2 separate regions of the Homo sapiens genome follow, and region 1 is linked to region 2. Evidence: fine-mapped expression QTL. Tissue or cell type: uterus. Region 2 holds a variant in brackets; the other region holds the start of a gene. All regions are shown on one strand. Distances are from middle to middle.

Evidence for each region. PIP is the estimated chance that this variant, and not a neighbour inherited with it, causes the effect.
Region 1: DHRS1 starts here. The variant in region 2 is fine-mapped to the expression of DHRS1 in uterus (GTEx, PIP 0.98).

Annotation. Positions count from the first base shown.
Region 1 is chr14:24,295,387-24,303,483 of GRCh38, forward strand. DHRS1 (dehydrogenase/reductase 1) reads right to left here and starts at 4,394. Exons shown (of 9, transcript NM_001136050.3): 1 at 4,195-4,394; 2 at 3,571-3,744; 3 at 1,352-1,495; 4 at 1,123-1,202. The coding sequence starts at 3,720. NOP9 (NOP9 nucleolar protein) reads left to right here and starts at 4,464. Exons shown (of 10, transcript NM_174913.3): 1 at 4,464-4,815; 2 at 5,022-5,471; 3 at 6,226-6,336; 4 at 6,579-6,720; 5 at 6,846-7,038; 6 at 7,688-7,828. The coding sequence starts at 4,569. RefSeq lists an enhancer at 2,948-3,738.
Region 2 is chr14:24,004,079-24,012,180 of GRCh38, forward strand. It overlaps DHRS4L2 (dehydrogenase/reductase 4 like 2), which reads left to right. Exons shown (of 8, transcript NM_198083.4): 7 at 259-314; 8 at 1,808-2,325. The coding sequence ends at 292. It also overlaps the pseudogene DHRS4L1. Among named protein-coding and RNA genes, the nearest start is that of DHRS4L2, 19 kb to the left of the region's middle. The variant C/G (reference allele first, on the strand shown) is at 3,714.

The DNA of each region.
Region 1 (8,097 bases), 290 kb after region 2:
CTTCCAAATGAAAACAAGTAGAGTTATAGTTTTAAAGGAAAGTGCAGCCCAAGGTAATACAGAGGAAAGGCAGTAAATGCGCATGGGGAATGGGTGGGCAGGAGGTGCTGGGGGGCTGTCAGGGGCTCATCAAGGGGCCTTTACCTTGGATAATTCATCAGGGCCCAAGGTCGAGGGTCTGGGCCTCTGCCTTGAATCTCTGCTTCAGGGTCAAAACCCTGGCCAGCAAGAGATGAGGGTGTGGAAGGCACCTCTCTTTGGAGGCTATGGTCATGAACACTGGCCAATTTCCAGCTCTTAACGTGTCCCTTTCTTGCCTTTGGCCTCACCATCCTCCTCTGTCCTAATGATCTTCCTTCCACTTTGGAAATCACAATTGCATTCTAATCCTGCTTCCTTGGGATTGTTACCAGAGTACCAAAATTGGAGCGGTGGGTGTTCTTACATGCTTTAGTCACAGATTTGCCGATAATCTCGTGGTTACTCCCACAGGTGACTGATCACATCCATCAGGCATGACTTGATTATATGAGAGTGTAACATCATTCCAACAGTAACAGAGGCATAACTGGTGTGCATTATGCTAGGCGAATTCTAAATGCTGTGTTTCATCTCACTCCTGGGCTAAATGACCCTGTGTGACCCAGTGATGTACCTGCTCTCCCAACTCTGACCCGGCAGTGCCCTTGCCTGTGGGTGTGGAGTGAGGATGTGGAGACTAAACAGCATTGGTGTTCGCTCCTTCTTCTTAAGCTTCTCCCAGTCTAAAATAAAACAATTTCTCCCTCTAACCATTTTGAAAGTATAGACTACAGGCTGTGCGCATTACTGAGAGGAGGAGGCTTCCTCCCTTCTGGGTCTTGCATTTGGATGGGCAGAGAGTGAGACAGGAGAGAGGCCAAGGGCTTGTTCCAATGAAAATTACTGACAGAGTTGACATTCTCAGGTACAGACTCACCTGGATGGAACTTCTCCAGAGGTAAGTGGGACAAATGGAATGGAAGGGAGAAGAAAGAGATGGGGGAGGCCGGAGGGAAAAGGAGAGGGCATGTAAGGAAAGGCCTGGCCGTCGAGTTGGCTAAGTGAGTGAGGGAACATGGGTCCTGGCAGTGGAGCACCCACCTGAGTCCGACGTTGTTGATATCATCCCACATGGAGGCAGGGGTTTCCCAGAATGCCTTATTCCTGGTGTTCAGGATCGTCTGGAAGGCACAGGGAGGGTGATGAATGATCTGAAGGTAGGGAGGTGTGAGGGGCTGGGTAATGGAAGGGACAATGAGTGGGGATGAAGATGCAGGGGTCTGAGGGGGAGGTCAGAAATGTGGAGTTGGGAACAAAGTTCAAAGGGTACCTGGACCCCTGCATAAGCATTGTTGACCAGCACATCTAGACGCCCTTGCTGTTCCCGATCCACTTGCTCAAACAGGCTTCGCACTTCACTCTCCTGGCTTGAATCGCACACCACAGGCACACATTGGCCCCCGAGGGATTGTGCCTGGAGTAGGACAGGGGATATGAGCTCACATTCACACATGGGTGTGAGTCATGACAAAACTCCCCAACCAAAGTGGGCTTGAGAACTGAGAAGACAATCAATCCTAGGAGAGCCTGCTGCAGAGGCAACATGGCAGGCAACGCTGCCCTCTGGTGTCTGTTTGAGTAGTTTCAGGAATGATAGGCCTCCCCACCACAGAGCAAGGTGAATTGCAATGTAAGTTTTAATAATCTACAAACATTTACTGAGGCCCACCATGTGCACAGCATTGTACTTTGCAAGTAGAGGGTAAGAACAAGTGAGGCATGGAGTCTGCTCTTGAGAAATGAGTAAGCATCCTTTTCCTTGTTGTGGTCATTTCCATCTCTCATGCCCTTAGCTCCCACCCTACACTACTCACCTAAAACCTCTACTCAGTCCCAGTTGTCTTACCCTCACTCCACCAATGCTCCTGGTTGGTAATTGAAAAAACCAAAGCTATCAGCCATGAATGATTTCTACTTCCTGTTCTGTCTCACTCTCTACAAATGCCCACAAACCTCCAACTTCAGAGGAAGAAGAGTCCTTTATCTAAGAACAATCCTCCTATTCTCCAAATTTATGCTCTGGGTCCCCGCCTATTACCCTCCTTGCCTGAACTACTGCAATGCCTCCCAACGACTCACCTGACCTCCAGTCTGTCTGCCTTAAATTAATTCTTCATAATCCAGCCAGTACGACCTATCTAAAACACAAACCCTGTTCAAAATCTCCTAACTGGATCTCCATCTCTTAGAGGATGAAGCCTGAGTTCTCTATTAGGGTCTTCCAAGACCCACTCTTTCCTCTCCAGCCTCTCACTCACTACTCTTCCCTTGCATTATCTCACACATCTACTCTTTCACACAGCGTCCCTATGCTTATGGAGCTCCCTCTGCTGGAATGCTTTTCCTAACTTCCTTTACCTAATTCTTACCTTTCAAAACTCAGTTCAAGAACCACCTACCTCCTCCAGGACGCTTTCCCAAACCACTTTCCCTAGCCACTCTCCTATGTCATCTGGATGCTCCCCAACACCCCTAGAGTATTCTGTGCATATCTCCCTCTTATAATTTACCATATTCACATTACATTGAAGTGACTGCTTTCTGTACCTGACTTCCTGTTGGAATCTATCTTCATTTTTAATTAAAATTTTTTTTTTTAGAGACAGGGTCTCACTGTCACCAGGCTGGAGTGCAGTGGTGCAATCATAGCTCACTGCAACCTCGAACTCCTGGGCTCAAACGATCCTCCTGCCTCAGCCTCCCAAGTAGATGGTACTACAGGTGCAGGCCACTGTGCCTAGCTAATTATTTAAAAAATATTTTTTGTAGAGACTGGGTCTAGCTATGTTGCCCAGACTGGTCTCCAACTGCTGGCCTCAAGTGATCTTGCTGCCTTGGCCACCCAAAGTGCTGGGACTACAGGCATGAGCCACTGTACTCCACCATGGACTGAATCTTTGAAGAGCAGAAATTAGATTTTATTAGTCTTGGTAACTTCAGTGGTTTACCAATGCCTAGCAAATCATGGATACTCAAATATTTATTTAACTGAAGTCTAGTAAATAAGTAAAAAATGTGCAGTTCAATAAAGTCTTGCCTGAAATAGAGGAAAGCACAGGTCCACAACCCTTTAGTTGCAATTCCAAAATCTCTGCTCTCAAACAAAAAGTTTTTTACTTTTCTTTCTTTTCTTTTTTTTAATACAGTGTCTCGCTGTGTCGTCTAGACTGGAGTGCAGTGGTGTGATCATGGCTCAACTCCTAGGCTCAAGCGATCCTCCTGCCTCAGCCTCCGGAGTAGCTGCTGGGACTGCAGGAACGTGCCACCATGCCTGGCTCAAACACAAAGTTTTTTCATAAAACTCACTTGGCGGCAAAATTCTACCTTACCTGAAGTTATTTACGGGGTTTTTAATTTCCACTTTGAATAAATATTCACATCTTGTTGAGTAGTATTATAGTTTCAGGTAAGGGATTAGGAAAGGAGCTGTTAAGTGGAAGGGCTCTCTCGGGTGGTTTCTGCAACTGTGGTCCCAGAGGAAGCACTCACCTCCTGAGCAACAACGCGAAGGGTGTCCAGATGGCGGCCAGTGATGTAAACTGTGGCGCCTGCTTTGCAGAGCTGCAAGGCAATGCCACGGCCAATACCCCTGGAGGCACCAGTCACCACACACACTTGGCCATTCATGGGAGCTGCCATGACTCACAGGCAAAGGAGGCAGGTCTGTGGAAGCAAAGACTTACTCTGAGGGAAGCCTGGAGACTGTGTGTGTGTTGGGGCGAGGTTGGGGGGTAGGGGAGAACCTCACTAGGGCTAAGAGGAGGAGCCAAGGTAAGAATCCTTTGAGGGGAGAGGAGTCAGAGGCTGACAACTGGGTGCGGGCCTGAGGACAAGGCTGACTGTCTTTTGGGAGGCCCAGAGAGTGAAGAAGGGGCTGAGTGGGACTGTCCAGAGGTGGACAACTACTACAACCCTCTGAGTGTGGCTGCCTGGATATGGGAATCTGGCGCGGCAGCCCCTCGGGGCGCGTCCACGCAGAGTCCTGGGCTATCTGAAGCTCCGGTCCCTGGCCTGACCCAGTCCGGCTGAGCCAGAGGCGCAGCTTCCGGGCCGGGGATGAGCGCGAAGCCTGGAGATCCTAAGCCCTAAGTGGGACGAGCGTGCGCCGCTTACCTGCCACCTGCGCTGCCGCTGAGGTCTGCAGATTGCGGGGCTGCGGTGGAAGTCTGGGTTCTCGCCCAGATTGAGCCGGCGACGTGGAGGCAGTGTTCAAGGATTGATTCTGTAGTAGGACCCGGGGCGATTCTGTGCTGAGGTAGAGGGGCAGAGTCCCAGGCCAAAGTTAGAACCTGCGGATGGGGGCGGAGCGATCTGGGTGACACACCCACCCCGCCCGGCTGGGGCGGCGCGGAACTATGACGTAGTAGCTGCGTCAGGAGCGCGCCCGCGTTTCTAAACTTTGTCTGGATAAGGCGCACGCTTGGCGACGTCGAAGGTCCGTCCGCAGTTAAGGAAGCTTTTGCAGCCGGACAGGTCGCGAAGCACACATGGGGCAGGGTCCGCGCTCTCCACACAAGGTGGGGCGCCGGTTCCCAGCTGGTGGCAAACGGGGGCGCGGGGCCAAGGGGTCGGGGCGCCCCTTACCAGGCCGTAAGCGGCAACCCTGGCCGCCTCCGGATGGGCGCTCGGAGCCGGCTCCAGATTCGCACCCGCACCTGAGCCCGGAAGCTCTGGGATATTTCCGCCGGGCGCTGTCAGCATTGAAAGAGGCTCCCGAGACTGGGGAAGAACGAGGTAGGCAGCAACTTCGGGGTTTAGACCAAGAGCATCAAATCCAGGGCAGGCAAGGAAACTTTCTAGGGTCGGCAGGGCGTGGGGACTTAGTTTCATTTCCCATGTCCTCTTCCTCGGCCTCCGACCCACGACCCTTGGTTAAGCGAGGGTACATAACTGTATTCTCTACTAAGTCTCTTCAAAGTGTGTCTTTCTTCCCTTTTCAGATCTGATGGTGCACAATATAATGAAGGAAGTAGAGACTCAGGCCCTAGCTTTGTCCACGAACAGGACTGGCAGTGAGATGCTGCAGGAACTGTTGGGATTCAGTCCCTTGAAACCGCTTTGTCGCGTGTGGGCTGCTCTGCGCTCTAACTTGCGCACTGTGGCCTGTCACCGATGCGGGGTCCATGTATTACAAAGTGCTTTGCTACAGCTCCCTCGATTGCTGGGGAGTGCTGCAGAGGAGGAGGAGGAGGAGGAGGAGGATGGAAAGGATGGTCCCACGGAGACCCTGGAGGAGCTGGTCCTGGGACTAGCCGCTGAGGTGTGTGATGATTTTCTTGTCTACTGTGGAGACACACATGGCAGCTTCGTGGTCAGAACTCTGCTTCAGGTGTTAGGAGGGACTATTCTGGAGTCTGAGAGAGCCAGGCCCCGTGGTTCCCAATCATCTGGTAAGTATTACAAGAGGAAAGTGGACCTAGGGGGAAGAAGAATTTAGAAAGTTCAGAATGAGACAGTAAACAGAAGAGTAAGTCTTCATGGGGGAGCTTGACCGGGAAGAATTAGCTTGACCTGTCCTAATCTGAACAGGGCTTAGCAAGCCAAAGATTAGTGTGTGCGGAGGCCCAGAGGTAGGGATGTACAGTTGTGTTTGGGGAAGGCTATTAGAATGGACGCAGGAGGAGAATTTTTTTTAAGCATGACTTAATATACAAATGGACTTAAGCAAAAGTAACATACACACTGGACTCAAGCAAAAGTTCAGGAAACTATACCCTTACTACATGCAGCCCACTCTGTTATTTTTTTTTCCTTTTCAAAACTATTCTGCTCTATTTCATTTAAAAAAAATGCTAGTTGAGACCACTAACTTGATTTCATGGTACAGTCTTGAGCTGTGATCCACATTTTGAAAAACTAGGAAATAAAGTTAGCGAGTTTAAATGAGGCTTTATTTTGGAATGGCTTGAATACCTGGCTGAGGAGGTTGAACTGTCTTCTGTGGACCATGGGGAAGCTGGTTGAAGTTTCTTAGAAAAATTAAGACAGAAATGTAGTCTCAGTTCAGTCATCCAGAAGAGACATTTAGTTGTACTACATCTGTTCTGCATCTCCAAGCGGAATCCTTGTTCATCTGTGAAATTTTTCTCTCCTGGATGGCAGTTTGTGATCTCCCCACTGCACATGTTCTTAATCTTCCTTCAGAAGCACAGAAGACCCCAGCTCAGGAATGTAAGCCAGCTGATTTTGAAGTCCCTGAAACCTTTTTGAATCGCCTTCAGGACCTGAGCTCCTCCTTTCTGAAGGACATTGCAGGTAAGGAGGGAAGTAGGAGGATGGTCTCGTATCTACTTGTCTGGAGGTCATCTTACCACCAAGCAAGGCCCTTACCTCAGGTTATTCCTCTTCTTTTCAAACCTGGTCTGGTTTGACGTTCAGAGCACTTTGTATAGTCCCTTTGTGTCCATAGTGCCCTGTATCTTGTTGCCTAAAGTTTGAGGTTACGCAGGTTGTCTGGATTTTGGGAAAGCCGCTTTATTTCTGCCCTCTCTCCACAGTGTTTATCACTGATAAGATCTCCAGCTTCTGTCTTCAAGTGGCTTTACAGGTTTTACACCGCAAACTTCCCCAGTTTTGCGCTCATCTCTGCAATGCTGTGATTGGCTACCTGAGTACTCGCGGTTCCTCAGTAGATGGCAGGTATGGTCAGGGCCTCAGGATCGACCCAAGTTGGCGGGGCTGTGTGAAATGAATGAGGTGATGTAGTGCAACTGTATTTTGCATGAAATGGAGTTAAGACTGCCTGATGCCCTTCTTGTCCCTAGTCCCCTACTGCTATTTCTCCGAGATCAGACGAGTTCCAGACTCCTGGAGCAGGTCCTGCTGGTGTTGGAGCCCCCAAGACTCCAGAGCCTCTTTGAGGAGCACTTGCAGGGGCAGCTGCAGACCCTGGCTGCACATCCCATTGCCAACTTCCCTTTGCAGCGCTTACTGGATGCAGTCACTACCCCTGAGCTGGTGAGTTGGAAACCTGAGCTGGATCTGTTTCTGCTAATTCTTGATCACTGGACCTTATTTTATGGTCTGTCTGCCTCTATATACCTTTGACATTGTGCTGGCCATTGCCCTTGAAAAGCTATTCTTTGAGGTTTTCCAGAGCTTAGGATAAAGGTGCCCACCTTCTAGTGAGGATTTGTTTTGACTTCTCTCAGGTATGAGGACCAGCAAGAAACTGGCTTTATTCAGGTTTACAGCTTGAGGTTCCATGGCCCACCCAGACTCTGGTACTTGGCTATAAGCCCACATGAGTGCTAGAGCTGTTGCCATAGCTTCTCTTTTCCTTTGCTGCTTAGGACTAAGGTGGGCTTCCCTGTGGTCTCATGCATTGGGTGTTAGAGTGGAAGTGCAGTTTAATTTTAGTCTCCCCTTGCTCCTAGTGCTCCCTTACACATAGGGAAGAGCCACTTAAAGTTCCTTCCTGTGAGGTGGCACCTCTAAGACTGCCCCCTTATCCTGGGCCTTATCTAGCCAAACAAAAGTCCTGATACTGGCAATGCTTTTTATGTTTTATCTAGCATTTTTAGTTGTTTTCGTTGGGAAGATTTCTCTGAATAATGTGGTCCGCCATTACCAGAATGCCAGAGTTACATTCCATGTTTCCCATCAGCTGTCCCCTGTGTTTGAGGAGCTGAGCCCTGTCTTGGAAGCTGTATTGGCCCAGGGCCACCCAGGGGTAGTCATTGCCCTGGTGGGGGCCTGTCGCAGAGTTGGGGCCTACCAAGCCAAGGTCCTACAGCTCTTGTTGGAGGTGAGTGGATATTACCCACAATCTGTTTATGCCCTCAGTTCAACTTCTACCTTTTAGGACTTATCTAATCTTAAGTTTTTGTACCTCTGGACTCAGGAAGTCTAATGCCCAAGGAGTTCACAGGAATGGGGGAAAATGAGGCCTATAGGTGCCCGCCACCATACCCAGCTAATTTTTTTTTTTTTTTTTGAGACGGAGTTTTGCTCTTGTTGCCCAGGCTGGAGTGCAGTGGCGCAATCTCAGCTCACCGTGCCCGGCTGAGGCCAAAT
Region 2 (8,102 bases):
GCTAACACGGTGAAACCCCGTCTCTACTAAAAATACAAAAAATTAGCCGGGCGCAGTGGCGGGCGCCTGTAATCCCAGCTACTCGGGAGGCTGAGGCAGGAGAATGGCATAACCCGGGAGGCGGAGTTTGCAGTGAGCCAAGATAGCGCCACTACAGTCCGGCCTGGGCAAAAGAGCAAGACTCCGTCTCTAAAAAAAAAAAAAAAAAAAGAAAGGAAAAGAAAAAAAAACATAAAGAGATTTCCCTTCTTCCTACAGCTCTGGATGGACAAGGAAAAAGAGGAAAGCATGAAAGAAACCCTGCGGATAAGAAGGTAAACTGTCATGAGGGCAAGGGCACTAAGAGACATGAAGATGGGAAGGTCTGGTCCCTAGCAGCCCACAGCCCGCTGTCTCAGTCCCACAGATAACACAGGCAGGCTCTCTTCTGCCTCACAGACCACGAATTCATAAACACTATCACTACAGTGACCTGAGCAAGAAGTCAGCTTCCCTTTCCAAAGGTAAACACAGAGACATCGGGGTTTCAGCAGTGCAGAGGTCTCGGAGAAGCCCTGAGTCCTCTCTCCACCTGGGGGATTGCCTCCACCTCTGAGCATCCATGGAGACCAGGGACCATAACCAAAACCATGCTTTGTTAGTCCCCTTGAATAATGACACATGTTTACAAAACTCAGGTTGATGATCTACAATCCAAATGAAAAGAATGAAGAGTTTTACTAAGCCCCAAACTCCCCTTGCCTAAGGAGTTACTTTCTTCCCCAGTGAGCTGGGTGAACTGTTCAAGCACCTTTGTCGGGCTCCCTTTCCTCTAAGTTCCCTGCCTCTCTCTACCTTCTGGCTTCAAGGACAAATGCCAGTAATGCCTAACTCTGTACTCGTCCAGACATCCCAAATCTTCCCAAAGCCATTCTGATGTGAGACATGAGCTGCAGGCCTGGTTCATAACTCATTAATAAGTGAGGGGATTGTCAACCTAGAGCACCAATGAATGATCTAGCCCATGTAGCTCAATACTGGATTCACATTAGAATCACCTGGGGAGCTTTTTAAACTGCAGGTGCTCAGGCCCCACCCACTCCCAGAGATTCTTTTTAATTGGTCCAAGGTAGGACTTGACCATCTGGGCTTTTGTTTTTCTTTGTCTTTTCTTTTCTTTTCTTTTTTGGTTTAAGCCTCTCAAATGATTGCAAGATACAAGTAGAATGGAGAAGCATTAATTCAGCCCTTCTAGGTTTGAGTTACTCACTCTGCCCACCTCTAGAGCATTCTATGGCAGGGAGATTAAAGTGTCTCCTAACTATGCAGTCACTGATAAAATAAGAATTAGCACATTCTCACTAAATGAACATGACTTTAAGGCACAAGTATAGATTCCTGAAAAAGTTCTAAGCTGAACCTGTACAAATGGAATCATTTTAAACACACCATTTACTGTCACACAGACTCCCTGATACTTTAGTGTGTGCACATGTGAAACCATTTTTTTGAAGTATGAAATAATTAATTGCTCACCATTTTATCTATATAACTTTGGATTTTGGTGTCCTGAGCTCTCTAAAAACCGGTGTGTTTCTATAGTATTTGAATATTATGGGTAATAGTTTTGCAGAGTACAGTATGCTTATACTAAATTATAACAGCATATCCTCGTGGTAACCCTATTTGATAGGCAGAAAGCTTGTACACTGATCCTGAAAAGTCATCTGATAATTCTTGATTAAGCAAATTTAACTCCCCGTGTCCCAGGTGAGGGAGGCAGACCCGTTTGATTTTTACCTCCTTCCTTGCTTCCCTTATTCCCCAGGTTAGGCGAGCCAGAGGATTGTGCTGGCATCGTGTCTTTCCTGTGCTCTGAAGATGCCAGCTACATCACTGGGGAAACAGTGGTGGTGGGTGGAGGAACCCCGTCCCGCCTCTGAGGACCGGGAGACAGCCCACAGGCCAGAGTTGGGCTCTAGCTCCTGGTGCTGTTCCTGCATTCACCCACTGGCCTTTCCCACCTCTGCTCACCTTACTGTTCACCTCATCAAATCAGTTCTGCCCTGTGAAAAGATCCAGCCTTCCCTGCCGTCAAGGTGGCGTCTTACTCGGGATTCCTGCTGTTGTTGTGGCCTTGGGTAAAGGCCTCCCCTGAGAACACAGGACAGGCCTGCTGACAAGGCTGAGTCTACCTTGGCAAAGACCAAGATATTTTTTCCTGGGCCACTGGGGAATCTGAGGGGTGATGGGAGAGAAGGAACCTGGAGTGGAAGGAGCAGAGTTGCAAATTAACAACTTGCAAATGAGGTGCAAATAAAATGCAGATGATTGCGCGGCTTTGAATCCAATTGACCTGTTCATTTCTCAGTGTTGGGTGCTTAGCTGAGCAGAGAGCAGAAGTCTATTCAGGCTGGATCTCTGGATCCCCCAGCCCTCCTCCCTGTCTCCAGAACTTGAGCGTGATGTTCACGGGTGGAGGTGTCTGCAGAGCTGCCAGCTGGAAGGAAGGTGGCACGGGAACTCCCAGGACGCCACGGGAATCCCCGAGGCAGCGCGAGCCCGGAGAGAGTGGGGAAGGATGAACTCTCTAACACCTCCCCGCCCCTTGCCTCCCAGATCAGGCCAGGTCCTCTCCCCGCATGGCCCTACGTCCCGAGTTCCCTCCCGAGTCAGCAAGTACAAGCTGGATGGGTCCTGAGCCGGTGGGGAATAGAGAAAGGCCCTGCAAGGTACCCAGGCCCACAAACAAAAGAAATGGGTTCTGCCCACGGGCCCGAGGATTCAGTAGAAGGAAAGTGGGGACGCTGTCCCCCGCCCCAAAGGCACTGACACTGGGCGACACACGCTGAGCCTCTCACACCGACGGGCCTCTCACGCCGGAGCCGGCAAGAAAGGTCGGCGCCAGCCCGCGGGCTCTCAGGAGGCTCGGCAGCGCGACGCGCATGCTCAGTCGGGCAGCTCTCCGGGCCGGCGTGGGAGCCCGCGCTCCAAAGCCCGGTGGGGGGAGGGGCGCTCACGCAACCGCCACTGTCTGGAGCGGGCTCGCCTCTGCGGCGGCACTCACCGCCCGGGCTTTACTGAAGCGGAGTCTAGCATGTGCGGCTGCTCCACAGCGGTGTGGGTGGCGGCGGCTCCTCTGCAGCAGCCTCGGCAGTAGGGGTCACGGTGGCCAAGCCCACCGTGGAGCTCATCTGAGAGTTGTAAGGTACGGGACTGCCTCGGTCTTTGGGACGCCCCGTCTGGTAGCATCCCAGATCCAGCACGTTCCTTCCGGCCCTGCACCCCGGCCCGGTGCCTCACACCCCGCTACCCCATGCATCCAGACTCTAAGGCAGCCCCTGCATCTCAGTCCTGACATCGCTGTCCCTGGAGCATCCTCCGCTGGAGCTGGAGCTTGACAGGTAGGGTGGAGAGGGCCGTGGGGGGGGTGCGGAAACTGCATCAATTAACGGGGCCGTGGGGGAGGGAAGTCCTCCATTGCTAAGGCTTCAGTAGGCGTTCTATGATCACAGTGTAAACAAAGCTGCAGGGAAGCTCTAACTGGGCGGAACCCACCGCAGCTCAGCAAGGCCTACTGCCTCTCCAGATTCCACCTCAGGGGCCAGGGCATATCTGAGCAAAAGGCAGCAGACAGCTTCTGCAGACTTCAGTGTCCTTGCCTGACATCTCTAAAGACAGCAGTGGTTCTCCCAGCACGGAGTTCGTGCTCCGATAACGGACAGACTGCCTCC[C/G]CAAGTGGGTCCCTGACCCCCATGTAGCTTGACTGAAAAACACCGCCCAGTAGGGGCAGAGAGACACCTCATACAGGTGGGTGCCCCTGTGGAACAAAGCTTCCAGAAGAAGGATCAGGCAGCAATATTTGCTGTTCTGCAGCCTCCTCTACTGATACCCAAGAAAATAAGGTCTGGAATGGACTTCCAGCAAACCCCCAAAGACCTGCAGCTGAGGGGCCTGTTAGAAGGAAAACTAACAAACAGAAAGGAATAGCATCAACATCAGCAAAGGACAGCATCAACATCAGAACAGGAAAGGACATCCACACTAAAACCCCATCCATAGGTCACCAACATCAAAGACCAAAGGTAGATAAAACCACAAAGATGGAGAGAAACCAGAGCAAAAAGGCTGAAACTTCCAGAAATCAGAACGTCTCTTCTCTTCCAAAGGAATACAAGTCCTCACCAGCAAGGGAACAAAACTGGATGGAGAATAAGTTTGATGACTTGACAGACGTAAGCTTCAGAAGGTCAGTAATAACAAACTACACCCAGCTAAAGGAGCATGTTCTAACCCATTGCAAGGAAGCTAAAAACCTTGACAAAATGTTAAACGAATGGCTAACTAGAATGAAGAATCTAGAGAAGAGCTTAAATGACCTGATGGAGCTGATAACCACAGTACAAGAACTTCATGAAGGATACACAAGCTTCAATAGCTGATTCAATCAAGTGGAAGAAAGGATATCAGTGATTGAATATAAAATTAATGAAATAAAGTGAGAACACAAGATTAGAGACAAGAAAAGAAAAAAGAAACATTCAAATTCAGGAAATACAGAGAACATCACAAAGACACTCCTTGAGAAGAGCAACCCCAAGACACATAATTGTCAGATTCAGCAAGGTTAAGGGCAGCCAGAGAGAAAGGTTGGGTTACCAACAAAGGGAAGCCCATCAGACTAACAGCAGATCTCTCAGCAGAAACCATACAAACCAGAAGAGAGTCGGGACCAATATTCAACATTCTGAAAGAAAAGATTTTTGGAACTAGAATTTCATATCCAGCCAAACTAAGCTTCGTAAGTGAAGGAGAAATAAAATCCTTTACAGACAAGCAGATGCTGAGAGAGTTTGTCACCACCAGGCCTGCCTTACAATAAGAGCTCCTGAAGGAAGCACTAAACATGGAAAGGAACAACCAGTACCAGCCACTGCAAAAACATACGAAATTGTAAAGACCATTGATGCTATGAAGAAACTGCATCAATTAATGGGCAAAATAACCAGCTAACGTCATGACAGGATCAAATTCACATATAACAATACTAACCTTCAATGTAAATGGGATAAATGCCCCAATTAAAAGACACTGACTGGCAAATTGGATAAAGAATCAAGACCCATATGGTGTGCTGTATTCAGGAGACCCAATCTCACGTGCAAAGACACACATAGGCTCAAAATGAAGGTGTGTCTGGAATTGGTGGGTTCTTGGTCTCACTGACTTCAAGAATGAAGCCACGGACCCTCGCAGTGAGTGTTACAGTCCTTAAAGGCAGCGTGTCCGGAGTTTGTTCCTTCTGATGTTCAGACACGTTCAGAGTTTTTTCCTTCTGGTGGGTTCGTGGTCTCGCTGGCTTCAGGAGTGAAGCTGCGGACCTTCACAGTGAGTGTTACAGCTCTTAAGGCGGCATGTCTGGAGTTGTTCGTTCCTCCCATCCGGAGTTGTTCATTCCTCCCACTGGGTTCGTGGCCTCACTGGCCTCAGGAGTGAAGCTGCAGACCTTCACGATGAGTGTTACAGCTCATAAAGGCCGTGTGGACCCAAAGAGTGAGGGGCAGCAAGATTTATTGCAAAGAGCGAAAGAACAAAGCTTCCACAGTGTGGAAGGGGACCCAAGCAGGTTGCTACTGTTTGAAGGGGTGGCTTGCCCCTCCACACCTGTGGGTATTTCTAGTCAGGTGGGACGAGAGACTGAGAAAGAGAAATAAGACACAGAGACAAAGTATAGAGAAACAACAGTGAGCCCAGGGGACCGGCGCTCAGCATACCAAGGACTTGCACCGGCACCGGTCTCTGAGTTCCCTCAGTTTTTATTGATTATTATCGTCATTATTTCAGTAAAAAGGAATGTAGTAGGAGGGCAGGGTGATAATAAGGAGAAGGTCAGCAACAAACGTGAGCAATAGAATCTAATAATTCAGTTCAAGGGAAGGTACTATGACTGGACATGCACGTAAGCCAGATTTATGTTTCTCTCCACCCAAACATCTCGGTGGAGTAAAGAATAACGAGGCAGCATTGCTGCAAACATGTCTCGCCTCCCACCATAGGGCGGTTTTTCTCTCATCTCAGAACTGAACAAATGTACAATCGGGATTTATACCGAGACTTTTAGTTCCCAGGAGCAGGCAGGAGACAGTGGCCTTCCTCTATCTCAACTGCAAGAGGCCTTCCTTTTTTACTAACCCACCGCAGCACAGACCCTTTATGGGTGTCGGGCTGGGGGACAGTCAGGTCTTTCTCATCCCAGGAGGCCATATTTCAGACTATCACATGGGGAGAAACCTTGGACAATACCCTGCTTTCAAGGGCAGAGGTCCCTGCGGCTTTCTGCAGTGCACTGTGCCCCTGGTTTATTGAGACTAGAGAATGGCGATGACTTTTACCAAGTATACTGCTTGTAAACATTTTGTTAACAAGGCACGTCCTACACAGTCCTAGATCCCTTAAACCTTGATTTCATACAACACATGTTCTTGTGAGCTCCAGGTTGGGTCAAAGTGGTTGGGTCAAAGTGGCTGGGGCAAAGCTAAAAATTAACAACATCTCAGAAAAGCAATTATTTAAAGTACAGGTCTTTTTCAAAATGTAGTCTCTTATGTCTTCCCTTTCTACATAGACACGGTAACAGTCTGATCTCTCTTTCTTTTCCCTACATATCCCCCTTTTCTTTTTGACAAAACTGTCATTGTCACCATGGCCTGTTTTTGCTGGTCACTGTCTTTCTGGAACTGCTGGATACACCTGTAGACTAACAATAGAGAGGGCAGACATACAAGGATTAATACAAAATTTGCAATAGTGGAATTTCCAATGGTTTTAACCCAAGTGATGGGGGCAAGAGGACAGTGTGGGTGCTCCGGCACCCAGGCAGTCTCCCTTCTCCTTTGTCTCTTAGTTGTTGTTTCTCATAGTTTTCAATCTTTCTCCTCACCTGCTCACTCGCACTTTTTGTTTCATTGTCTCCCTTCTCTTATGGTCTCTCTCTCTTTTTCTCTTTTTCTTCCTTTTACACTATTTCTTTTCCCAGTCTCACTTTCTGTGTCTCTCTCTGATCTCTGTCTTTCTCTTTTACATTATTTTTTTCCCCAGTCTCACCTTCTGTGTCTTTCTCTGATCTCTGTCTTTTCCAGTCTCTCTCTTACTCATTTTCTCCCTCTCTTTCTCTCTCTCTCTCTCTCTCTCTGTCTGTCATCCCGTGTCCTCTCTCCTTCACACTCAGTCTCTTTTTCTTTTTCTTTTTCTCCCTGGCTCTCCACATCTGCCGTTTTCTCTCCTTTCTCTTTCTGATTTCTCTTCTCACTTTCTCTCTTCCTTTCTTTCCCAGTTTCTCTTTTTTCTCTGTTGGTCTTTCCCAAATAATGAAAAGGAGTGGAGGTCTGAATGTTATCAGATGCTATTGTCAGGCCTGCGTTTGCAACCTCTGTCTGCAGAAATGTGTAACAGTCAATTAATTTGTCTCTCGTTTCTGCAGCACTCAAAATATCATCAACATAATGAATAATATAACAGTCTGAAAACTTGTCTCTAACTGGTTGAAGAACTTGAGCTACAAAAGTCTGACAAATAGTTGGACTATTAAGCATTCCCTGAGGCAACACTTTCCGCTGAAATCTGGTGGCTGGTTTTTTATTATTTATGGCTGGTATAGTAAAAGCAAATTTTTTTAAATCCTATTTTGCCAGAGGAATGGTAAAAACGCAATCCTTTAGCTCAATTATAATTAAAGGCCAATCTTTGGGGATCATGGCCGGAGAAAGCAGCCCAAGTTGGAGAGTCCCCATGGGTTGAATTACTGCATTGATGGCTCTCAAATCAGTTAGGATGCACCATCTGCCTGATTTTTTCTGAATTACAAACGCAGGAGAATGCCAAGGTGAAAATGAAGGCTCAATGTTTCCCTTTTCTAATTGTTCCTTTGCCACTAAGTGTAAGGCCTCCAGTTTTTGCTTTGGTAGTGGCCACTGATTTACCCATACAGGCTTTTCTGTTTTCCCAGTTAATGGAATGGGTTTTGGAGGCTCTACAGTGGCCACTCCTAAAAAGGATACCCTATTTCTTTTTTTTTTTTTTTTTTGGATTTTTTTAGCCTCAATTGGGACTTTAATGCCTTCTCC